4 linked regions of the Homo sapiens genome follow. The protein of the gene in region 3 interacts with the protein of the main gene of each other region in a pairwise test. Each region holds a gene or a part of one and is shown on either strand. Other genes may lie near its edges. The genes, in order: CSTF2, NAF1, SS18L1 and MAPK1IP1L.

Evidence for each region.
Region 1: the proteins of SS18L1 (region 3) and CSTF2 interact in binary tests that used the Homo sapiens proteins (3 or more experiments, as listed by UniProt).
Region 2: the proteins of SS18L1 (region 3) and NAF1 interact in binary tests that used the Homo sapiens proteins (3 or more experiments, as listed by UniProt).
Region 4: the proteins of SS18L1 (region 3) and MAPK1IP1L interact in binary tests that used the Homo sapiens proteins (3 or more experiments, as listed by UniProt).

What each region holds. Positions count from the first base shown.
Region 1 is NC_000023.11:100,837,359-100,842,021, reverse strand, and holds the end of CSTF2 (cleavage stimulation factor subunit 2), read right to left. Parts: coding exon 4,573-4,663; intron 3,784-4,572; coding exon 3,661-3,783; 3' UTR 3,658-3,660; intron 1,309-3,657; 3' UTR 502-1,308; downstream 1-501. UniProt on the Homo sapiens protein: One of the multiple factors required for polyadenylation and 3'-end cleavage of mammalian pre-mRNAs. This subunit is directly involved in the binding to pre-mRNAs.
Region 2 is NC_000004.12:163,135,880-163,142,912, reverse strand, and holds part of NAF1 (H/ACA ribonucleoprotein complex non-core subunit NAF1), read left to right. Parts: intron 1-2,529; coding exon 2,530-2,690; intron 2,691-5,662; coding exon 5,663-5,714; intron 5,715-7,033. UniProt on the Homo sapiens protein: RNA-binding protein required for the maturation of box H/ACA snoRNPs complex and ribosome biogenesis.
Region 3 is NC_000020.11:62,174,749-62,181,781, forward strand, and holds part of SS18L1 (calcium-responsive transactivator), read left to right. Parts: exon of another isoform or gene 1-1,570; intron 1,571-4,433; coding exon 4,434-4,460; 3' UTR 4,461-7,033. UniProt on the Homo sapiens protein: Transcriptional activator which is required for calcium-dependent dendritic growth and branching in cortical neurons. Recruits CREB-binding protein (CREBBP) to nuclear bodies.
Region 4 is NC_000014.9:55,047,039-55,054,675, reverse strand, and holds the start of MAPK1IP1L (MAPK-interacting and spindle-stabilizing protein-like), read right to left. Parts: upstream 3,030-7,637; 5' UTR 2,873-3,029; intron 1-2,872.

The sequences.
Region 1 (4,663 bases), on a different chromosome or scaffold from region 3:
TGCTATTACATTCTCTAAGCCTATGCCAGGCTTTTAATTCACCTGACCATAATCCTAACCCAGGGGATAGAATTCCAAGAATATAAATTGGCTCAAAAGTAGTTCCAGTAGAACTTTACTGATTATTAAGGCAACTCTTAACCTCTTGAGGTTGGCCTGATAGAGAGAAACCATGTTCCTCCTTAATGCCACTACGAGAGAGATGGGGTTGGGGTGGGGGGAGAGGAGGAGGCGGCGGCGCGGCGAGAGAGAGAAATACTAGGCAATAAGACCCATAGATTAGAGCTAATGGCACTAATTATGTTCATACCTATCCGCAAGGAAGCAGGCAGGAGCAGACCTAATGAGCAATCTGACTGTGCTCTACATTTGGTCCACTTAAAATGAGAAGAATGTACAAGTTTTAGGGTTTTCTGTGTTGTAAGTTCCCAGAATAAACGTAGTTACAGGGTAGGGCTGCAGGTTAGGGACTGCCTGGAAGATAGGATGAAATGTATTTTGTTCATTTGATTTCTGTTTTTATTTCATCTTGAGCATGTGAAAAATCAGTGGCTTTTTAAACTTTCAAAGTTGACTGCCTAGACTGATAAGTTTAAGAACACACAAGTAAATGTCAACAGTCTCTTGTGTTGCTGACACACTCAAACCAGTGCTAAAACAATTTTTGTCTTAACTCTGAATTATACATGTTCAGACCTGCTATTGAAACAAATGCATTTTGATATTTGGATTTTTCTAAACTAAACACACAGCTGTGCTAGGCTCTTTGCTCTGTTAGCCTTCTGACCATTTTATAGCTCTAAGCATGTGATATTTTCTCCTAGAAGACTCCGAAGTGCTAGAATATTTTCAGAGGGCAAAGCCTTATAATAATTCTTACTGGAAGCAAACTAAACAAAAACCAAGTTCCAGAAAACATTGCTTCTGAGAAATTCTCAAATATCATCAAGAAGAATAAGTGGTTAACTTAAAAACAAAACTATGGCAATATGTTAAAGTACAATACTGCAGTAAGGGTAGAAAACACATCTAAGGTTTCACCCTTAGTGTTAAGCTTTTTAAAAGCAAAAAGGTCATGTGTATCAATTTGCAGTGTACTAAAATTGTGTTCAAAGTTTATTTCAAGTCACAGAAAATATACAAACTAAGACAATAAAATGAAGTGATTTTGTTCTGAGAGAAGGTGATGGGAGTCCTCCACCTGGCACTGATTTGAGTCATTCAAGGGTTAGGATGCAGGTCATCTTTTTTCAATATTTCAACAAAATTATAGAATTTCCAGATTTCTTGCCAGGTATTTTTGAAAACCTGTAAGAAGAAGTTAGGACAAAGCCATTAGAAGTGAAGACAAAGCTCTCTTCCGGAAAAACTTCAGGAAAAAAAATAAAAAGGCTAGGGGAGGGAGGACAGGCATATAATCAAATCACCAGGACAGATTTGCAAAGTATCTGTCTCCTGCCTCCTGACTCCTCAAAGCAATCAGCCCTTGCAGCAGGGTTTCTCAACCTCAGCACTACTGACATTTTGGGCTGGAGTACTAGTTGCTATTGGGAAGTGGGTGAGGGGGACCATCCTGTGCATTATGGGATGTTTAGCAGTATCTCTGGCCTCTACCCACTGAATGCCAGTAGCATGCCATACTCCCTAAAGTTGTGATGACCAAAAACGTCTCAAGACAATGTCACCTAGGGGGCAAAACTGCCCTTGTTTGAGAACCATTCATCTCTAATGACAACAGTATAGAAGCCTGTCCATGATGGCAGAGATGGATCACAACTAGCTAGGTATAGGATGGAGGAAAACCCAACACTTTAGCCATGGTATGCACAAACACCAGTAGACACACAATAAAATCTTGCCCACATAAAATTGCATAGAACCACACATACATATACACAAATCATGATAGTTTTTTTAAAATGGTGAAAACTGAGTTTGCAGTCAAGTTAACAGTAATGTGCCAATGTCAATTTCTTGGTTTTGCACTACACTGGGTGAAGGGTACATGAGACTCCTTGTACTATTTTTCCAACTTTCCTTGAGTCTATGATTATTTAAAAATAAAAGGTAAAAAAATAGACAAAAACTTTGCCTTGTGGTTAATATGCAAGGCCTTAAATTAAACATCCTATAAGCAAAACTATAATGAAAGAAATTTCAGAAACATTTCTACCTCTACTATCCAGAAACAGTAAGGAGTAATTTTCTCACATTGTAGGGAATGCCTTCTCTGGCTTAAGTAAATTAGTAAAAGAAATAATTTTTATTTATTCCTCTGAATGTAATAGGTAGTCTATACTTTTACTAAAAAAAAAGAATATGTGGGGTTTGTGGAATAAAACGTTAAGGTACCAAAAGTCTACTGAGCCTTCTATCTATGATAGCTTCTCATTAATTCATTTAAGGTCTAAATACATATATGATGCATAGTCGCAGTTTAAATGTTTAAAGACATCACAAGTATGGATTAAAATGATATATTTTGTAAGAGTGGTAATTATTAATAGTTAAATGAGTTCACTATTATATAACATAAGAATAGGAATTATAATATGGATGGGGTAAAAAGTAGAAATTTAAATTGTGCTGTCCTACCTGATAGTGGGGCAACATGAATTTTAAACTGTTTTTAGAAAAAAGAACTGTTTATAAAATACAAAATGCTGGGGAAATTTTTTTTAAAAAAGAAACACTGATACATGTATGTGTAATCAAGTTGTCACATGATTATTTATGAAGCAGGTTACCTGGATCCTTTTTTTTTTTTTTTTTTGACACAGAGTCTCACTCTGTGACCCAGGCTAGAGTGCAGTGGCATAATCATGGCTTACTGCAGCCCTGACCTCCTGGACTCAACCAGTCCTCCCACCTCGGCCTCACAAGTAGCTGGAACTATAGGCGCATCTCACCATGCCTGGCTAATTTTTTAAAAAATTTTTGTAAAGATGGGGTCTCACTATGTTGCTTAGGCTGGTCTTGAACTCCTGGTCTCAAGTAATCCTTCCACCTCAGCCTGCCAAAGCTGAGATTACAGGGCTCAGCCACTGTGCTTGGCCCCTGGATTCTTTCTGCCTAAATGATGAGCAAGAAAAATAAGGGTAGCAGGGTACAGCGATCTCCAAAATATATAGAAACTGATGGTGATGACGGACATTTACTACCTTAAATTATGTGCTACTATAGTTCAACATCAAAATATTCCCTATAAAATAAATACAAGAAACAAAATATTTACACATTTTATTGAAATGCTTTGTATTTTTCCATTTTGACAGGACAGTTTGGAATAAAATAATACAATTGATTGTAGAAGGATACACACCAAACTATATTTAGAGGTTTTGTCTGGGGAATGAGATTGAGGAAACAGGGCTTTTTACCTTTCACCTTCTACATTTCTGTATATGATTACTTTTGTTAAACTGATCATACATTACCTTTGTCATTAGGAAAGATTATAAGCAATTCAACAACTGAACAAACATTGTATAGCCTTACTCTATCCCTACAGGAGCTGACCTACTGAAGGGTAAAGAAGAGTCTAGCTGAGTGGATTGAGGGCCGCTGAGAGAACAATCTTGTTGGTTAAGGTTAAAAGTATATACCCAGAATAGACAAGGAGCTAGTCCTACTCAGATGGGGATTAAGTTTGCTCACCTATCAAGGTGCTCCAGTGGATTTCTGTATTTGTTCCTTTAAAATCAGGATACTCTGCCTTTGCTCAGGAGGCAACATGGCAATCTGGTCTGCAGTCAGTTGTAGAACCTGCATAATCAAAGCAGCCTGTGCAGAGGAAAAAAAAAAGGTAGTGAGTTTTAATGATGGCAGCTAAAAAATACAAAACAAAACAAAAAACCCACCACCAGCTTCTGTCCAAAAAGCTACTGTAGTGGGATATGAAGCAAAATGGAAAAAGGAAGAACATTTCACACAGAAAAAAACCAACAGCCCCCCTCCAAAAAAAATAAAAAATAAAAAAAAACTGGTGAGAAAAGGTACAATGAAAAGAACAAGTATAAATTAAAATACCTAAGATTAGACGATTCAAAACAGACAACTTCATGAACTCAAAGTTCCTGGAGACTAAGATGGTATCTGTGAGCCCTGGAAATCCTTCAAGTTTTAATCCTGTTTTGAAAGTCTCTCTTTTTCACAAATTTTAGCCTTTCCATCAGACATAAGCTCCCCACAATGGTCAAATATAAAAACAGAAAGATATAATCATGGGGAATCTACTATTGTTTTTAGGGATAAAGTAGAAAGGGAAGGAAAAAGGGTGTGGATTTTCAGGTCAATCTGGCCTGAACAAGAAAAACCTGCTATTGGCAGATGAGTGTGAAATATAAAATAAGCTGCCATTTACATCCACTTAAGAACTTCACATCCATTAGGAACTTCAGGACCAGACTCACAAATTTTCAGGTAACAAGATCATAAAAGAGTTCTAAGTTAGAATAAACATCACCTCCAAAGGGACTTTGAAGACCCAGGATCGTCACATGGTAACTGTGAAAAGAGGAATCAAAAAGGCTAGAATTGTGCATAAGGAGGCAGTCAGACAGTGTTGCTTACCTTCTCATGATCCTGTGGAGTGACTTGGTTCTGCCCGGGACTAAAGCCGCCAGGCTGGCTTCCACCCTGTATACTTGCTCCTTGCATTCCT
Region 2 (7,033 bases), on a different chromosome or scaffold from region 3:
GATATGGGTGCCTCCTATGGAGCTGTATGAGGAGAAGTGGGCCGGCCTGAGCCTTGCTGTGTCTTAAGTTGCTCTTTACAGTTTAGCTCTCAGGTGTTAGTCAATCTAAACTCTACACTCAGAGGCTAATGGTTATTTAAAATATTGTTAAATTCCTCTTTTCTACTCTGGATTAGCCAAATTGCTTATGTGAACTTGGTCAAGTTTTCCTGTAACATACCTATTAGTATTGGCTCATGCCACATACTGTCTATTGTATGGCTTCCTGTTATCTACTGCCTGTGATGTTGTTTTACTTAAAACTTTATAATGATTTCATTATAGTTGTGGCTCATAAACACTTCAGAACCTAGGAACAGTCAACTAAAATACTATGCTTTGCTTTTGTCCAAGAATTTTGAATGTCACTTATATTTTAGTTCAAACCATACTGCACAGACCTGAAGTTGGCAAGGAATTTTTCCACTGAAATTGTTTTTCACACTTAGGAAATGGATTCATGCTATCTAGGAAACAAATCCCTGGGAAACAGTCTGTGTACCAGGTTGCAAACGATGATTATTTTACCTTGTATTAATGGATACACAGGAAACTTAAAAGATATTTTTAAATCTCTGACCAAATGAAGAATTGGGTTTGTGTATATGTGAGAGAATTAAACTTGTGAATTGTTTTTAAGACAATTTTAAGTGAAAGTAAGACTACAATAATATATGTCATGTAGGCCAGTAAGAGTGGTGCTGAGTGCACCTCTTCTGTCCTTCACAGTTCTTACTGGACGAGGTCTACTGGATTTATCTAAACCTTTTCAAAGCAGATGTCTTGCTATTTTCTTAAAGTTTTTTGCTTTTACACTTTTTTAAAGCTTTAAATTTGTGATGCTATTAGTGTTATTTCATAATACATTGGCATTTTAATAGTTTTTAATGTCACTACTTCTTTTTAGAGTACACATATCTTCAGAATGGTGGTGCCCTGATAGGTGAGCTGTTTTACGCCTTAATGAAAATTAATGAAAGATTCAGTGCTGTACTGAAATCATAAAATGTGAAGAGCATTTACTATCAAAAATCAAGAACTGAGGATGTGATAAAACAGCCATGTTCAATGCAGTTGGTATAAATTGGTCCAAGCTATTTAGAAAGCTATTTAGTAATTTCCATTAAAACTTTTATGCCTTAGTGTTAATTATCGTACTTTCAGCTTCAATACCTCCACTCCTTACAAATCAATTTTTAGGAAGTCTGAAGTATAGTGATTTATATATGTTTATCATGGCATCATGTATTATGTTGAACAAATTGGAAGCTGCCTAAATGTCCTACAATAAGAAAGAAGTTAAGTAAGTTGTCCTGAGTCTGTAAAGGGGTGTTTTATGATAGCTAAAATTATACTTACAAAGAATATAACATGGAACAACTTTAGGTTTTTAAAAGGGGGCAGTATACAAAACTACAGTATGGTCTTAAAGAAAAAAATAACGTATTATAGAAAAAAGACTGGAAAAATCTATACTGGCATTGATCATGGTCTTATCTCTATAATATACATATATTATCTCGCTTTTGTCCCCCAGGCTGTAGTGCGATGGCACAATCTCGGTTCACTGCAACCTCTGCCTCCTGGGTTGAAGTGATTCTCTTGCCTCAGCCCCTGAGTGGCTGGGATTACAGGTGCCTGCCACCACACCCGGCTAATTTTTGTATTTTTAGTAGAGACAGAGTTTCACTATGTTGGCCAGGCTGGTCTTGAACCCCTGACCTCAGGTGATCCGCCCGCCTCACCTCCTAAAGTGCTGGGATTACAGGCGTGAGCCACTGCGCCCAGCCAGAAAATATATTTTTTAATTCACGTATTTTGAGAAGAAAGTACAATTTGAAACCAAGAAGTTTCCTTTCATTATTCTTAAAACGTTTTCAGAAGTAAAATATGTGGTTCTGCTAAAAGCAGTTCTTTTAGTTAAATGTTAAAGGCTGCACCATCTTTGTGTTTTTTAAACATAAATAACTTCTACTTTATTAGTTGTTAAATTAGAAAAAGTCTGTAATTTTACAAAATTCCTAACACTGTGGAAACAGCAAAAGTGATTTAACTCCTATTGAAGTCAGAAGCTTGCTTTTATATTTCCCATCTGATGATTCCAAATGTATACAGTTTTCTCAAAAGTTACCAATTATAATCCTTTTCTGTGTACTTTACAAGTTAAATGAGCAATAATTTAAAAAAATCATAATTTGCATCGAGTTGGTACCATCAAAATGATTTGAATTTGGTGAGGAACAAACTTGTTACTATTGTTTCACATTCATAGAAGGGAAATCTGGAATGAGCGAGTGCATTTTAATCAATATATGAAGACTGAATATGTAAAAATGACATAAATATAACTAAAAAATTATTTTATTGCCCTAACACTGACAAAATTACCTTGTTCTGGCAATTATCAGTGGGATTTTTAAAAGAAAACACTGCTGACTTTTCAAATAGTTATTTTACATGTTAAAAGAGGCCTTTATGTTTCTATTACAGATATTCGAGATATTTGGACCTGTTGCACATCCATTTTATGTGTTACGGTTTAATTCTTCAGATCACATTGAGAGTAAAGGTATTAAAATAAAGGAGACTATGTATTTTGCTCCATCAATGAAAGATTTCACTCAATATATATTCACAGAAAAACTAAAACAGTAAGTACTTTACCGGCATGTTGTTCTTCACTTACCTAACGTTTATATTTTAAGAATAATTCTCAGTGATGTAATTTCTTACAGTTATATTGTGTGTGTCTTGCAAAGAGTTCATTTATCTTCCTAATAATATCTTTGAAGCCTACAATTTATTTTCAGATTTTGTACGTAGAATTCATATCTTTTGTAAAAAATGAGATGATCAGCCATTAAGAGCACATTTGAGCCATGTACACTTTCTGATTCTAGTTCAGTGTTTTTTCCATTATGTACATTCTTTAATGTACTTACTATTTTAGTATTAGTACTAATATTATTATCATTTCTTAATAACTTTTTTTTCAGTTAAGTAAAATTCTCTTTGGATTCTATTTAGGGGCCTTGCTCTTCAATAAAACTTTAAAATAGTTTTCAAGAGAAAAAAAATGAGTGTTATCTCTTTATTTTGCTTATAAATTTTAAGTTTGTAGAAGAGACAACTAACACGTGTCCCTGAAAAATTGTGTAGAAAGTTACGGTGTATGGAGTTGACCTAACCAACAAACCAGTGCTCTCCATTTTGTCTATCAATAATGCTAAGTGATTTCTGTGGCATGTGACCGCAATATTTTTTTATATTTGTGCTCCCATTGGTTGAATATTTTTCAAATGTTAGCTGTTGCCAGCTGTTAGTTGTAGAGCTGTTTGTATCAGCTAAACTTGTTATAATTATGTTATTTAATTTTTTATATCAGCAAATAGCATATGAATTTAAGATTTTTTTTTAATAAAAATAACTTGAATGCTTTCGAATGATGTAATGAATATGAGCCACTAAAAATATTTTCAAATTGGGAGTGGAAGAAAAGACTGCCAAAGACTGGGGGAAGGTTAAATCCAGAAAGACTTTGCACTCAGTTTGACACAGAAGTTCCTTTTAGTTCTAGCTCTTCTTTTATTGGAGACTTAAAACCTAGGCGATACATTTTTATAGATGTTGTTTTTGCAGGAAAACAAAGGAACTTTGGTCACTGAGTAACTTTGGTATTATGTCAAAGGTACCAACCCCAGTTGCATGGCATAAGAAGATTACTTATACCACTTACATGTTAAATCAAGTCTCAAGTCACCAAATTTCATTTATTTCAGAGATGAAAATTTTGATCCTGATAATTGATTTAACTCATGTTTAAGAATCTACATAAAGATCTGGAGGAATATTTTGCCTAAGTTATTCTTCACATTGCATAAGGTTATTTTCTTAAATAACACTGACAAGAAAGATGAATTAAATACACATAAAGTCTTCAAGATATTAATATGTTCTAAAATGCTTTAAATATTTAGCATTTCATCCTGCTTTGAATATAAAGATACTGCTGTGGATATGCCATATATTTAGCTTTTTAACAAATAGAGTATTTTAGCTTAAAACAGATAAATTTGAAGAGGTTTTCTGAAGATGGTTTTTAAATAGATTTTAGATAATAGACTCAGTCTTTGGTTTTGATTTGCAGTTCTTCTATTAAGAAGCAGTAGTAAATCAGTGAATTGGGAAATTAGACCTATATTGCAGAAACCTCCCTCTCCCAGGAAAACTGTTGTATTCTAGACCTCATTTTGGCATCTGTCATGGGAACTTGGTGGAGTACTTTGTCTTTGAGGTAGAGAAGTTCAGCTCCTTTCCAGCTTACTGTTCTCTAATGAGGCTATTTTGATCTTAGTTTCTCATGTACTTACTGTCTTGTTAAAAGTGCCTTTTGAAATGTTGCTTGATCTTTCCTTTAGTAGATTTTGATTTTTTGTAATAGACGCACTAGTTGGGGAATTTTTCCCATTTATGTCTGTGATTCCAGGCTAACAGCAGTCCAGATCATGAGATGTCATATGTGCAGAAAGGAATACCAGAGATATATTTAAGGCCCATGTGTGAAATGACAATTGAGGAAATGCTTTTTTCTTTTAAGTGATGGAAAAGCCATTGATAATGGCTCATATATAATGTCAAAGTTCCGAATCAAAAATTTAAAGCAAACTTAATAACTTTCATGTTGTGCCAGCAAACTGACATCTGTACATTGATTTTAATGGCCTTAATTCCTGGGAATCTCATTTATTTTTGAGATCTAGTTTAAAACAATAAGGACATCTAGTCCTAATACTTTGTAATATTTTACTTTGTGATATTTTAACATAATGGAATAACAAAATAGTAGCTGAAACTATGAAATTAACAAAATTAAAAAGATTAAAAATGAGCTTTCACAAATTATACTGCTCATAATAGATATCTGTACTTTTGTTGGATGTAAAGTGTAAAACTCTCCACCAAAAGTTGTTGATTTTCAGCTGCAATTACACATTTCACACATGCCAGTCATTATATTGTCCTTCAGAATCTTTAAAGCAGCTTCTCTTCCTCTTCCTCCAACTATTCATAGTTAGCCTTTGTTTGACCCTCACTGCTTTGAGAATCAGTGTTGGAATAAGCCTTGGTTACTCATAGAGGATTGCTGACATTCCTCAGGTAAACTGAGGAGAAAATAATTCATATTGATATCTCTGCCATTAAACCTGTAAAATCTGTGAAAAGGGAATGCCTCATAGTCATTTTTATGTCCTTCGCACATGGAACAACTTCTGATCTACAGTTGGCGTGAAATAAGCATTTTTTTTAAACTGAGTTTTGTGAAAACTGCAAATATTATGAAAACAAAAATCAAAAGAGCTGTCCATCTGCTTTCCACTGCACACCATAGCCTTGGCTTCTCATTCCAGTTCCCTAATCCTAATATTTCTACTTGCTCAACTTTTGTGTTTTTCTTAGGAGCTTCCCACATCTTTTGAAATAAGGTAAAAGACACATAACTGTATTGCAAAATTAAAGGTTGAACTCATGTCCTTTACTTTATTATTTTCTGTACTTTTAAGTTATGAGCACTTAATAGAATTGTGATGAATACTTTTTTGACTCCCATCCCCACCCCACTCAGGGATAAGGGATCAGATGCATCATGGAAGAATGATCAGGAACCACCACCAGAGGTAAGTATAAGTCTTTTTATGCAACATTTTATAAAGTAGGGCAGGACTTAATCTTATAAATTTTATCATTCTTGCTGTTAGGGAAGTCATTAATACTGGCTAGCAGCCATACTGCCTTATCCTGTCCTAGCGCATGTATTCTCTCACCGTCCTAGATGACTATTTCATACCTTTCAGTGAAAGGTTTTGATTGATCATTTAGGAAAAAAACTTTTTTCAGTTACATTTAGTTGTATTTTAATAATTATCACCTTATCATTTACATTGTAGTTTACTATTTTTGTCAACTTTGTTGATGTCTGATAAAGGCAGGCTGTCATTATTTTTTAAAAATTTAATTGAGTTTAGTAAATACACCATATGGGACATGAAGACATGGTGCTTTTAATAGCTGTCCTTCTTTTGGAAGTACAGAATCATTGGAAGCACAAGATCATTGGAAGCTACCTACCTCTCTACTTTTTACGATATAACTACCTTTCTAAAAAGAGACCTTGATTTTCTTTTTGTATCTATGTCAGCAAAACAATAGTTTTATGCCCCAAGGTGACTTGATAATCTAGTCTTCCTAGAGATGTGAAGTAAATTTAGGAATAATATGTAAATAAGTTAATGATTTAATAGGATTACTTGGTTAACATTCCATGAAAGTGTTTAAGCAGATTATCTTGAGGGGTTTTTTTTTTGAATTACAACAATGAATATATTCATTTCTTAAAAATAGCATGTATTTATACAGTATAAAATAAAAATGTATATAAATATTTTTATAAGTAAAAATTATACATGAGAGTTTTTAAAGCTTGCTCAGCAGTTCTTATGAAGTTTTCTCAGTATTACAGTTTTTTTTTTGTTTTTTTTTTTTTTAACAAATATAGACATGGGGGTCTCAGTGTGTTGCCCAGGCTGGTCTCAAGCTCTTGGCCTCAAGTGATTCTCCAGCCCTCAAGCAAGCTTCTGCCTTGGCTCCCCAAAGTGCTGGGATTACAGGCATGAGCCCCTTGCCCAGCCAGTATTACAGATTTTTGATACTTACCGATTTAACCTTGGCCATTTTAGATGTTTAAAGCAATCGTAAATCATGATCTGTGTTTCTAATTTTACTGAGGTATGAATCAGGTTTATGCCCACTTGGAGGGTTCTATACAGGTATGAATCACTTAACCAGTGAATGATCCTTGCTTAGTATCTGAATTGAAATGGAATTATGTTTTCTAATTAATGTTATGTATTTATGTGATTTCAGTTAAGGCTCTGAATATTCACTTAATGTTCTGAATTAAGTTTTAGAGTATCTATAGCATCTTATTACTGGAATT
Region 3 (7,033 bases):
GCTTCCAGGGTTCCTTCCAGAACGTTAAGTCTCTGAGCCTGTAAGGTTTTGCAGAATTGCCTCTGTGTATACGCTCACCTCAGTCATCCAGCTGGCTTTTCATACCCTAAGCTCACCGTTAGATCTGCACGCCTGGTTCTCACATTCATTCACTCTGCCAGTGTTTGTCACGTACTGGGTACGCGTCCGGTCTCTGCTGAGTGCTTGGTGTGTGGCCGCGACACGAACCCTGCACTTTTAGAGCTTATGTCTCGCTACAGAGACATAAGGTGGTCCCACAGGGCCAGACTGTGCTGAGGACAGAGCGGGGGGCCCCAAATGGAGCCCGCCTTCCAGATGGGGGCGCAGGCGACCGCATTTGGCCCGTGTGGGCAATTCCAGGACGAAGACACAGCGGGGAGTGGCTGGCAGCCCCAGGCTCAGCCTAGGGAGGGGGAAGCCCTTTCTGCCCAGGAACAGTGAGCAGGGCTTTGAAGGAGCTGAGGAAAGAGCAGCTTGGAAGATGGAAGAGCGGGAGCTCTCGGGACAGTGAGGAGGCCGGTGTGGCGGGAGGTGACAGGGACAGGTGGGCGTAGGGGCCTCCATAAAGCAGACATCGCTTTCCCTCTGAGTGGGATGGGGCCCCTGGAGGAGGACAGGGTCTGTGTGGTGGGAGCACTGCAGGAGCGAGGGCCTCCTAGAGGAGAATGAGCCAGGCAAGGGAAGAGGGCGTGCCAAGGTCCTGAGGCACCAGGAGGTTTGTCCCAGTGAAGGCAGCCTGAAGGAGGCTCGGTGGCTGGAGCACAGGGCATATGAAGGAGAATGGTCTGGGACATTTTTTGGAGCCTCCTTTGAGAGAGTCCTTAGCAGGAAGTGGCTCTGTGTTGGTGACTCTGAGGTGGCTGGAGGTGTTAGGGACACTTTACACTGCCAGTGAAATTTCAAAGCACTACATCGCTCAAGTTTGTTTTTCTCAGGGAATTGGGTAGGTAAGAGGCCAAAGACTGTTTTTTAAATGCTTCTCGTCCTCCTTCTTCAAGAGGGCAAAGGGTCACCAGGTAGATGTAGAGAAGCCTAAAGACCATGTAACACAGTCTCCCTGCCAGGGCACCGTACTCGGCCATGCCTGGGAAGGGCACGCTGATGAGGCATTTACACAGATGTCAGGAGGGCTCTGGTGTGCTCTCAGGACACTGTGAGGCCACTGTAGCCGACGCAGGGGCCGCCTCTCCCCAGTGTGTGCTGGGCGCTGGTCAGCGGGGAGCAGGCCCCAGCTTGGCCCTCCAGGTTTGCACAGGAGTGTCATGCTGGAGTCTGGAAGGACAGCAGTCTGCATCCTGATGTTAAATTAGAATTATATGTGAATGATTCTGATGAGACGCCATACCTCCTTCATACAGTCCTGAAAATAACTTATTTGGATTTTGTGAAATAAGTGAATGTCCTAACTTAATTATAAGACTGAACCAGAGGACATATAACTTTATACCTACCTATGAAAAGACCGTGACCGGTCGTGGTGGCCCATGCCTGTAATCCCAGCACTTTGGGAGGCCAAGGCAGGAGGATCACTAGAGCCCAGGAGTTTGAGACCAGCCAGGGTAACATAGCAAGACCTGTCTCTACAAAAAATAAAGTAGTCAGGCATGGTGGTGCATGCCTGTAATCCCAGCTACTTGGAAGGCTGAGGCACGAGGATCCCTTGAGCCCAGGAGGTCGAGGCTGTAGTGAGTCGTGATTGCACCATTACACTCCAGCCTGGGCTACAGAGAGCGAGACTTTGTCTTAAAAAAAGGAAAAAGAAAGGCCAGGCGTGGGGGCTTACACCTGTAATTCCAGCACTTTGGGAGGCTGAGGCGGGTAGATCACCTGCAGTCAGGAGTTGGAGAGCAGCCTGGCCAACATGGTGAAACCCCATCTCTGCTAAAAATACAAAAATTAGCCGGGTGCCTGTAAGCCCAGCTATTGGGGAAGCTGAGGTGGGAGAATCGCTTGAACCGGGAAGGCAGAGGTGAGTTGAGATCACGCCACTGCACCCCAGCCTGGGCGACAGAGAGACTCCATCTCAAAAAAAAGAAAAAGACACAGAGCAATGGGGAAGATAGAGAATAGAATTTCACATCTGGGGGGAAATGTGTCCATCTAACTGCAAAATATTAAGATAGCCTTTAGTCAGCATCCAGTGTAGCTGGCCGTGGCGCTTTGGCACAGCACTGCCGGCGCTGGGCGTCTCCTAGGGGCCATTGTGCACACTGTGTTATGTTTGCAGCACCCCTGGCCTCCACCACGATGCCAGTAGCACCCCCATTGCCCAGTCTGACAATTTAAAATGACTCCAGACATTGTCAGATGCCCCAGGGGCAAAACTGTCTCCGTTTGAGAACCACTGGGCTACACTTAAACATGTGCTGAGGCGGCCAGGCGCTGTGGCTCACGCCTATAGCACTTTGGAAAGCAGAGGCGGGCGGGAGCAGATAGAGACGGAGGTTGCAGTGAGCTGAGATCGCGCCATTGTATTCCAGCATGGGCAACAAGAGCGAAACTCTGTCTCAAAAAAAAAAAAAAGGTGCTGAGGCATTGGGGCTGCCAGTGGTTTTATAGGGCTCCAGGGCTGCCATGCCTTCAGCTGAGCAGCTCTGGATTTGAGGCTTTCCGTCTTACCCAATGGTGCAGGAGCAGAAAGACATCAGAACAGACTCCCACTAACTAGAATCATCACAGGCAGCTCTGGGAATGAGAATGTGACGTGTTCGGTCAGGCTGGAACAGCTTTCCTCCCTCCCCCACTTCCTCGCTGGGGGCATTCGGGAAATCTGATCATTAACTAGCTGGGGACACATGGAGAACAGGCATGCAGATGATGATCCGTTGTCTTCCCCTGTGGCAGTCTCCCGAGTGGCTTTCACCACAGGTCCGATGCTCCGTTTTGCTGCCCAAGGAATTCTGCCTTGTGGCCTTGTGGGGCACAGGCTCTCTAGTTTCTCTTCTTCATGTTGTTTTTTGTTGTTGTTTTTGAGATGGAGTCTTGCTCTGTTGCCCAGGCTGGAGTGCAGTGGCACGATCTCGCTCACTGCAGCCTCTGCCTCTCGGGTTCTAGCAATTCTCCTGCCTCAGCATCCGGAGTAGCTGGGATTACAAGCACGTACTATCACACCTGGCTAATTTTTGTATTTTTAGTAGAGACAGGGTTTCGCCATGTTGGCCAGGGTGGTCTCGAGCTCCTGACCTCAGGTGATCCTTCCAAAGTGCTGGGACTGTAATCCTACAGGCATGAGCCACTGTGCCTGGCCTTTTTTTTTTTTTTTTTTTTTAAGACAGGGTCTCACTCTGTCGCCCAGGCTGGAGTGCATTGGCAGGAACATGGCTCACCGCAGCCTCAACCTCCGGGGCATGCGCCACAACATGTGGCTTATTCTTTTTTTTTTTTTTTTTTTTTTTGAGACAAGGTCTCACTCTGTCACCCACACTGGAATACAGTGGCATGATCTCGGTTCACTGCAACCTCCACCTCTCAGGCCCAGTGATTCTCCTGCCTCAGCCTCCCAAGTAGCTGGGATTACAGGCACGTGCCACTACCACCTGGCTAATTTTTTTTTTTGTATTTTTAGTAGAGATGGGGTTTCACCATGTTGGCCAGGCTGGTCTTGAACTCCTGACCTCAAATGATCCACCCACCTCGGCCTCCCAAAGTGCTGGGATTGCAGGCGTGAGCCACTGTGCCTGGCCGAGGCTAATTTTTTCTCTTTTTTTGTAGAGATGGGGTCTTGCTGTACTGCCCAGGCTGGTCTCAAACTCCTGGGCTCAAGCAGTCCTCCTGCCTCGGCCTCCCAAATTCAGATTTGTTTTTGAAACAGGGTCTCACCCAGACTAGAGTGCAGTGGTGCAATCACGGCTCACTGCAGCCTTGACCTCCTGGGCTCAAGCGATCCTCCCACCTCACCCTCCAAGTATCTGGGACTATTGGCACACGCCACCACACCCAGCTAATATTTGGATTTTTGTAGAGATGGAGTCTGGCCATGTTGCCCAGCCTGGGTCTTTAGATTTTTTTTTATAGATTGAAACCCATCACCCTGGTCGTCCCCGCTCCCATTTTCTTACTGTAGCAGGCTCGGGGGCAGATGGTGTTTGCATTGGCTCCCAGTGGGGCCAGCTTGGAGGAGAGCCTTCCTGCATAGCAGGCCCAGCATAAGGCTCTGATGCCAGGCCTGGCACAGGCCCGGCCGCAGCGATGCCAGTGTGTGACTGAACAAATGAACCTTTGGCCCTGTCTACGTTGTTAGCCCCAGGCTTGGCCAGTGGCTTCTGGAAAGTCGTTCGCTGCCCCGCAGAGATGTGAGCAGAGGTTGTTTGCTTGCTGTTGTCCCTCCTACCCCCTGTCCGGGCTGGGGTGGACGTCTGTCTTCCTTTCACTCATTACTATAGGGGTGTAATCTGTGTCTTGATCTCTTTTAGGGCCAGTATGGAAATTACCAGCAGTAAGGGACACACATTCTGGCTGGAGCCCTTGTGGTAGCGTGTTCATCCAGGGGCCGGATGGGCTGGCGGCAGCTCTGGTGAATTGTGACATGTTGGTTACCTGTTCGCCCAGTGCCACGTCTGCATGTGAAGCGTGCTCATTTCATGCTGGGTATGACGCCGAGCGCACACCACTGGCGTGAGACAGCGCTTGGTGGTGTGATACTTTTGGTGCTGTGTATAGTATTGTATGTCGGTACACGGAGAGGTATCCTTTTTTTGTCCCCCGCCCCCTTCTCAATGTTTCTAGCTAGCTTTGGGGGTCATTTTGTCATCAGAGCATTCTGTGCCCAGGGACAGGACAGATCTCGAGGACACCACAGTCCACCTGTTCCCGTCAACAGACGTTAGGTCTCATTTTCCTCCTCATGCAGTGTTGTAGTGTGGGTTGTCAACTTTTCTTTAACTGGCTACGCCACAGCTGGACACACATGCAGCCCCTGGAGGGCAGCCTCTTCCTGTGCCTCGATGGGGTGGGTGGGAGGGCATCTTCTGTGCGTTGGGTCAGTTTCTGTTACGTAACGAAAAGGATAAACATCTCCCACGGGAGAGGCCACAGATGGCCACTTCCAGAGCTTGCCCATTGCCTGTCTCTCGCCAATTCCGTTTATCCAAAAAGGTACATGTTTTTGTATTAAAAAGTAAACAGGGATCAGTGACTGTATTCCAAATAAATATGAATCCCTAAGGGCCGTGGACAAATTGCCTAACCCAGGGCCAGCGGTATTGCTGAAGGAAAGGGGCAGCTCTCTGGGAAGTGGGCCCTCAGAGATTACTCTGGCTTTGACCCTTGTTTAGCTGATGGTCATTTCTGGGATTGGAATATTTAATAAGCCCAATTCTAAGTTGATAGGTAATTTTAAATATTCAAACCAAATCTTCCCAACAGTTGGCAAGTTGTTTATTTTATATTATTTCTTCCAGGACCTACTTGCTCAGATCTCCAAGCAAGCATTTCTTTTCTTTTAGGGATGTCTGAAAGTCACATCCAGTTACATTACTGTGTTCTTTCTAATGAAAAGTAAAGGTTTTATATAGAGAAACTTGAGTAATTTTTACATTTCTAAGACATTAAATCCCATTTAAATTCTGTGTGAACATTAAAGACAGCACACTTGCAAAAGTATGGTCAAAGGAAAAAAATCCCACATTTCAATTAACAAGTAGCATGGACATTTGATCAACCTTTAGTTGGAATAATAATATTCATATTTGCTATGAATCCTTTTAAAAAAATCTTTGGATAAATGCTGACAGATTTCCAAGAACTACCAAGAAAATACAAGAGATATCCAATGCTTGATATATGAGGCCTAGTAATAACGATATTTCTCTTTAATTGATGTTTTGTTTTAAAAGTTAAAAGTAATTCTTGGCGTGGTGGTTCACGCCTGTAATCCCAGCACTTTGGGAGGCCGAAGCGGGCGGATCACCTGAGGTCGGGAGTTCGAGACCAGCCTGACCAACATGGAGAAACCCCGTCCCTACTAAAAATACAAAATTAGCCAGGTATGGTGGTGCATACCTGTAATCCCAGCTACTCGGGAACCTGAGGCAGGAGAATGGCTTGAACCCAGGAGACAGAGGTTGTGGTGGGGCAAGATCGCACCATTGCACCCGAGCCTAGGCAACAAGAGTGAAATTCCGTCTCAAAAAAATAAATAAATAAATAAATAAATAAGTTAAAATTAATTCTTTATCCAGAGTCGGGTGCTTTAGAATTTATAAGTCACTTATGTGTTTTGCTTGAATTAATTCTGACAGCCCCTATGAGGAAATCTGGAGGCAGGTAACAGTTCCCATTTTAGAGATGAAGAACTGAGGCACAGATTAAAGGACTTGCCTGTGTTGAATACCAGTCCTGTTCTAGGACATTCTCCCCTCTCCTAGGAGACGGATGTCACGCACAAATGGGGAGAGAAGTGTTTATTTTGTAGGCACTAAGGGTTTCTAAAACCCTTAACACTGGTAAGGGCTCAAAAATAAACGTATGTGTTCATATTCGATCACCGAAATGAGAGTTCTTAATTGCTAATTGACAAACGCGTTAGCAATTTCAGTTAGGGAGTCATCTCCCTTGATTGTGTTCTTTTCCTGTCAATTTTCATAGACCTAATTTGCAAACTCAATCGGGGACTAAAATTTCCCACTGAAAATGTTAAACATTTTAGATAACTGTGAAGATAGTTTATTTTTATTCCTTGCCAATCTGGGAATATGCCTTTTTTGTGTGTTTGTGTGTTTTTTTAAGTGCTGTATTAATAATACTTTCTGAAAGAAAAGGACACTTACCCCAAAACTTCAATCTGAAATGTCTTACATTAAGAATATCTTGAATGTTGTGTATATATTTTAAAAAGCACTTTGCAAAATAGTTTGTACATTTATTTCCTAATTTATACATGATTTTTGGTGTTAATATATTTAATGATTAATAACAGAATGTTTATTTAATGTGCTGTCCATTTTTATGTAATATTATGGGGAAAGTGATGCCAGCAGTTCCTTTTCATTATTCTATCTTCTGTCATATGAAT
Region 4 (7,637 bases), on a different chromosome or scaffold from region 3:
GAATCCTTTTGACGGTTATCTTTTGACAAAAAACTTCTCAATAAGAGACCATTTTCCATCTGTAGAAGTTATAATTCCTGCCCACTGCACAGAAAATAGTAACACACTTAATCTATAAAGTGCTATATACATGTTAGATATTTGTTAGGCGAAATTAAGCGAAATCAAAATTTTTGGGTTGATTTGTTTAGTATGGGGGGATGATATGTATCGTACTGAAAATATAAATTAATGGCCGGGTGCGGCGGCTCAAGCCTGTAATCGCAGCACTTTGGGAGGCCGAGGTGGGTGGATTACTTGAGGCCAGGAATTCAAGACCAGCCTGGCCAATGGTAAAACCCTATCTCAACTAAAAATACAGAAAATTAGCTGGGCGTGGTGGAAGGCACCTGTAATCCCAGCTACTTCGCTTCGATAGGCTGAGGCAGGAGAATCGCTGGAACCTGGGAGGCGGAGCTTACAGTAAGCGACTCCGTCTCCAAAAAAAAAAAAAAAAAAGAAAATATAAATTATAAATTAGAATACATGCTAGTTTTTAGTATTGGCTCATTTATCTGCTTATGTTCCATTTTTTACATTTGGGCAACTCAAAAACGGGGGTTTTGAAATGCTCAAAAATCTGAATCTTTTTGAGTGCCACCATGCCGCTCAAAGGAAATGCTCATTAGAGCATTCTGGATTTTGGATGCTCAACTGGTGTAATGTAAAAAAAATCCAAAATCTGAAACACTTCTGGTCCCAAGCATTTGGGATAAAGGATATGCAACCTGCAATATTTCTTGGCATTTAGTTATATACTTATTGGAACATATATGCCAAACAATGTGTTGGCCTTTAGAGAAATTATAGTATTACATGGAGATTCCTGAGATGTGCTGTCTTTTGCAGTCCATAAGGACCATAAGGAAAGAGCCGGGAGTAGAGGGCGGTGAAATGGGCCCTAGGGAAAGAAGAGCAGTTAGTGTAAAAACTGGGAGAATCTCTGGGGAGGTATAAGCAGTTCAGATGGGTTAGAATATAGCGAGAAAGGGAAGGGTTGTATTAAAGTCTTAGCAGAGTGACCTTAGACGAGGGTTTGAATTATTTCACTAAAAGTCGGCTCATCTGAATGAACCCGAACTATAAAGAACAGGCCATACTATTTGTAAAAAGCACGCAGTTTAAAAAACAAAACAAATAAAAACCAGGCCAGTAATGTTGCGAGGAACTAAATGGGACTCTGTCCAATCAAGTGCCTAAAAAAATAGTGCTTGGGTGGAAAACAAATACCAAATTCTCTTTTCTTTGTATGTGGACATCTAGCTTATAGGTAAAAAAGTAAACGTTAAAGTATGATTATCTAGCTATAACTGCAGCTCTTCACTGGTTGGTTCGGCCAGAGTTGACAAGTCCAACTCTCCAAACTTGAGGCAAAGGAAGATCGGAATCGTACCCACATCATAGATTTGCTGTAAAACTTTTAATAAACAAATCTCTTAGTCGCTGCCTGGAATATAGCAAAACCTCAACAAATATTAGCTTTTATGATGCCTACTTTTAGGTCCATAAATCTTTATCTGCCCTAGTTTGGCACAAAACTTACATGGTGGCAAAATGTGACCTGAAGCTATTTATAGTTTCTATTCGCCCCCACTTAGAATGAATGTTCACATCTATTGCTGCAAATATTAATGTTGGATTATGGGGTGCCCCACTCTGCTGGGGGTGTTATCTCTCGTCTAACATGACTTTCTAAAAAGATGAAGATAAAATCCAAGTATTTTTGAATTCAAAACACACTAGCTTCAAAAGTTTCAGTTAAGAGACTGGGGATGGATTTTACCCATTCCGCCTGGAGTGAGGAAAAGAACATTCCAATATTTGCAATTCACTCCAAGTTTCTGAAGCAAACTCGCTTTGCATTGTGGGCTCAGAGATGCCAGCATGAAAAATTTCTATTCTTCCCCCAAAGAACACCAGTGAACAAAGAACTTATGAAATGTTTCTGAAGGCTACCTTTGCCTGTAATGAGGGTTCCTTTTCGAAACAGACCTTTACAACCCCCAGGTGTGTATTTCTCTAGTAGTAAAACTAAAAAAAATTCTTGCGGTCGAGTGAGCCTGGCTTCATGCTTTAACACTGGAATCTTTACCTATTAAAAGCTGTACTCTTGCTTTTCAAGGTAAAGAGGAAAACGGTCCAGCTATGCATACGCTATCGCAGGTATGTGCTCCTCAGTCCTAAAAAAGGAGATCACTGAATTCTGCCCTTCTCGTGGTTTGCCCTGGGTATTCATCTAATGTATCCGTGAGCAATTCCTCTAGTAAGTCATAACCAGAACGTTGTCACACTGCGGATTAACAAGCGCCCGAGACTCTTGTAAGAATCTTTTCAGGCCTTTCCCTTTTTATTAAAAATTAATGAATGAGTGTAATAGGGTGGGGGTAGAGGGGAAATCGGGGCCAAGGGGCGCGAGGCCGGCAGCCGTTTAGGGACGCACGAACAAAGGGAGTCCGGGATCAACCGGAGCGAACCGGCCTCCTAGCGGGTCGCGCCCGCCGGGAAGGGGTGGGGGAGGGGCCGGCCCGCGCCCGCCCCGCCCCGCAGCCAGACCTGACGTCAGGCGCCCAGAAACCCGTCGGGCGCGACGTCAGCGGCCTCCGACACCTTCTCCCTGGGGGGCGATCCCCAGGCAGCCCGCAGCGTGGAGGAAGGCGACCGATAGAAACGCTTAGTCCTGGTGCCAGGCAGGCGACCACGGCCCGAGCACTGGACGTGACTCGATGCACCTCGGTCACCGCGCCCGCTTCCCGCTTGGCCGCGCCCGCGGGCTCCGCAACCCCAGCTCCCCGATTCCCCTTCACGACTCCCACTAGTACCGAAGCAGCCTCACCCGGCAATATCCGAGACCGCAGTAGGGTCTAGAAGCGGCGATGGGTCCGAGGGACTGGGCCCTGAAGACGCGGGCGCAGCCTGACTGACGGCAGCTAGAGCAGCGGCGGCAACAGCACCAGCAGCGCGCGGCTCCTCCTGGCGCCGGAACAGGAAGCGCCGAGCGCACCGCCTCCGCCCGTTCTCCCCCTCCCCTCAGGCCGCGCCGCGTGCGCCTCCCGCAGGCCCCTGGCGGTACTGCGGCCCGCCAGGCCTAGGGGGATGGGCTCCACCTGGCGCCGGCTCCGGGCCGCTTTCCCCTGGTGGGCGGGCTAAAAGCTCCCAGAGTTTCCGGAGTTCCGAGGACTCGGAGGAAACGCCAGTGGCTGCCGATGTTCACGGCTTCCCGGCGGAAATTGCTAACTTGTCTTGAGTTGCTTGAGGGCTGATTCTGGATTCCTTTTGCTCAGCGGTTTTTACAGCTAGGCCTCGAAGGAGGCTGGGTATGGACGCGGTCTGATTTCGGCCTGACCCGAGGACTCAGATCCTCGGGCCAAAAGTGGGGAGAGGGAAAATATTAATACAGGAAAGGGAAGACGTTTGCAAATAGCTTGACAAATTGATATTTGCTTTCTTTGTAGATTTTTCCTCATCAATGCCTCTTCTCCCATGTTCTTTTTTGTTGTTTTTGAGACAGGGCCTCTGTCACACACGCTGGAGTGCAGTGGCGCGATCTCGGCTCACTGCAACCTCTGCCTGCTGGTCTCAAGCAATCCTCCCATCTTAGCCTCCGAGTAGCTGAGACTGCAGGCATGTGCCACCACATCCGGCTTATTTTTGTGTTTTTGATAGAGATGGGGTCTCACCCTGCTAGCCTCAAGCGATCTGCCCGCTTCGGCCTCCCAAAGAGCTGGTATTACAGGTGTGAGCCACCGTGCCCAGCCGCCATCTTCATTTCTGAATAAACATTACCTCCTGTGTCAGGCACAGATGACATGACCCCAGTCAAGGAACCTACTAACTAGCAATAAAGATGTCGTGATAATTATATGGTGTGCAAAATATATACATATATGCAATATACTTTTTTTTTTTTTTTGAGACGGAGTCTTGCTCTGTCGCCAGGCTGGAGTGCAGTGGCGCGGTGCGATCTCGGCTCACTGCAACCTCCGCCTCCCGGGTTCAAGCGATTCTCCTGCCTCAGCCTCCCAAGTAGCCGGAACTACAGGCGCGCGCTACCTTGCCCAGCTAATTTTTGTATTTAGAGACGAGGTTTCACCACGTTGGCCAGGATGGTCTCGATCTCTTGATCTTGTGATCCGCCCTCCTCGGCAAAGTGCTGGGATTACAGGCGTGAGCCACTGTGCCCGGCCAATATACATTTTTTAAGATATAAAAATATCCTAAAAGTATGTGGTACACTTGCATCTTGCTTTGTGTAAGGCATTAGTGAGTGAGTGGGTGGCCATTTAACCATGAACTTGTTTAAAGGAAGACATCCCTGGATGTTTTCCACAGCACACACAATTCTCACACTGAAAAAGGGGCAACAGAGGAACTTCAAATACCTAAGCCGAGAGTCTTATTTTTGGGTAAGGGCACACAGGCCTATGGAAAATTACACGACTGGTGTGGACCTAGCCTGTTCTCACTGGTGACAGTGAATCAGCAGTGCCTTGAGCCATGCTGAAACCTGAAGCAACAAGAAATCAGTAATCTGGTCAGGTTTGATTTGAAATTTGGTATCTTGCTCATCATAGGCTTTTTTGCATCAATTCAGATATTACAATATTGTACCAAAACATTGTCTTCCTTAGTCGTATAGTCAAATATTTGTCCCTAAGTGCCTCACCATACCCTAGTCCTGGCGCTGTGTACCAGTAATGGATAGCCTCCAACTTTTCCTTGCCTGCAATCAGCCAGTAGCTGAGCACGTTGGAGGGGTCTAGATCTAGGCCATTCCTGTCCCTGTGGGCTTCTCTACAGGCAACCTTTGCTTGGGAACCAAGTCCTCATCTAGCAGTCTCAAGATGCACTGAAGTCCGAAGCTCCCCTACCCAATCCTTCCTTCTAGGTGTCAGACTTTCTGTGTGGTATGAAGAATTCCCCACCTTCTGCTCCCTTCTCTATCTTTCTAGGTGTTTCACTCCAAATAAATCTCTTGCACCTCTAATCACATTTTGGCACCTGCTTCTGGAAGTCCCAAACACAAAAAAACTAAAAGGAGTGTATTATAAATTAGAAAATATGTAAGAATATGGGTTTCTCTATCTTTTTCAGATTCTAAGTTGAATGTGTGAAGTAAAGACTATGTTTTTAAAATAAAACACAAAGCCTTTGGATTTTACATAGGAAGTTTTAATTAAGTAGAAATGAAAATTTATCCAGATCAATTTATTTGAACTTACATCCAAGAAGAAACATTCAACTTAAGGATTAGAAATAAAAGTGGCAATTGTCTACTTCTTTTGTGGTAAGGAATAGATCATACAAGCCTGACTGATGAGAGTAATAGCTTTGTGAAAACTGTATATTCGAGTACATGTGAACTCATACTTGGCTTATACAGAATTTATCCAATTCTAGCAAAGTCAGCATAATTTAAATAAACCTCCTTGAGTTTTACACCATGGCTCTCAAGTCTGAAAGCTTAGATTTGATTATAACCATGGCAAAAGTGATTATCTTTATTTTCTGAAAACGTAATCAACTTTTAAAATAAGTTAAGCAAACATCAGTTTTACACAGACCATATGAAGGGTAGGAGGAAACTGCAATTGTTCCTCTAATTGCAGAGCCTAAACCATAAATTCAAATTGTACTGCTATCTCTACTGTTAAAACAAGTCAAGAAAGTCTTTTACAGTCTAAGAGAAGTGAATGTAATTATGCAGCATCCACTACAAAGATATTTTGAAAACCTATCATCATGTTAGTACTCAATGGCTGTACAGCAATTATTTTAAAGTACGCTCCCAGGGTCACCTCTTGCTGAAGAATTAACTCCAGGAAGTCGAGTTACAAGTATCACCTACATTTTATAGGAAATAAAGGCAAAGATTTAGGACTGAGTCATCTGTTCAAAATTAGAAAGTAAATAAAAAAATAGACTTTGGTTTTATTTGAAAATCCCTTTCTATTGGGTTATATCCATTAATCTACATTTCAACTTCCAAGCCAATCTATTTTAAAAAGTTACCTCCATTTTGTGTCCAATATCTTACTGTATTAGAATAGTACAGGTAGACTCTTGCACTGCTCATTTCTAGTAGGCCATTAATAAAGAAAAGAAAAACCTTTGTGCTTTCTGTTCTTTCCTTAAATTACAAATGTAAAACTGACTTTTTTCCCCCAAAGTAGAAACAGTAGTTTGCTTGACGAAAAATCTTTTATTCACTTGGGCATTACATTACCTAACATTACACAGGCTATTTTGCTTTTAAACATTGTTTTCCTTGTGTTGTCTCCAGGAATCTCTTATAATTTTGTCTATTTTCCTGTGAAATTTGCTTTACCAAAATGAATGCGTAAGCTGTTTATTGGATTCTGACAATAGCTAAAAGCGACAAGAAATATTTTAATGAAAAGTAAGCGTGAGTTAGATCTTGGCCGGGCACAGTGGCTCATGCCTGTAATCCCAGCACTTTGGGAGGCTGAGGCGGGTGGTCACCTGAGGTCAGGAGTTCGAGACCAGCCTGGCCAATGTAGTGAAACACCATCGCTACTAAAAATACAAAAATTAGCTGGGCGTGGTGGCACACGCCTGTCATCTCAGCTACTTGGGAGCTGAGGTAGGAGAATTGCTGGAACCTGGAAGGCAGAGGTTGCAGTGAACCGAGATTGCGCCATTGCACTCCAGCCTGGGCTGACAACAGCGAGACTCTGTCTCAAAAAAAAAGAGATCTCAAGGTTTTTGTTTCATAGGAAGGAAGCTCTCTATTGCGTGGATCTATAAAATGATCCAAACTTCAGAGACAGGAAGCTGATAACTGGATTTATCTTCTTAATGGCTTTGGCTCATGAATAAATGATAATGGTTTATGTGTTTTTCTTATAAAAAGAAATGGAATTTGTATACCGATAGGAGTCCTACTTGCCACATTTGTTCTACTTATTAAGGGATTTCTAATTACTGAGACATTCTTTATATTATTTATAATAAGAAGTCAAAACTTTAACTGAAAGCCATTCTTTGACCACAGTTGGCCATTAGCTGAAATTCAGGAAATAGCACAGGTTTGATCACCAAATCAATAAATCTAGCCACAGGCTGACTAAAAGCTTCCTTTAATCTTCTTCCTATTAGGTCTTCCTTTAAATTAAACCATTCCCTTCATGAATTATTTAAGTGAATGGCATGGTTATAGAAAGATCACATATAACTCTATACAAAAATGCTAAAGGAACCTTAAAAAGTCCATTCAGCATACTTCAGGAATTATACTATGAATCAAGATGCTGTAGGCTTAGAAAAAAATGGGAGTGGGAGTATGTCCTGTAAAGCTTCAGAGAAAAATAGAAAAGTCAAGTTTATTTCCTGATTAGCCCAGGATGATTCCCAAAGCGCAGTTAAGTGTCTGGTCCAGACTAGCTATTAGCGATTAAGTAGTTTCTTTTCACTGTCAAGGCTTTTCCCTGAGGTAATGCCTAAATTCCTAATTTTAATATTTGATCTTATTTCTCTTAGCTCCATCCTCTCTCACCAATAAGCTCTCCACATTTCCACCATGCTAAATGCTTTCTCAACTCTGGAATTTACACTGTTCAAATCTTCCCTTTGTTCAACAG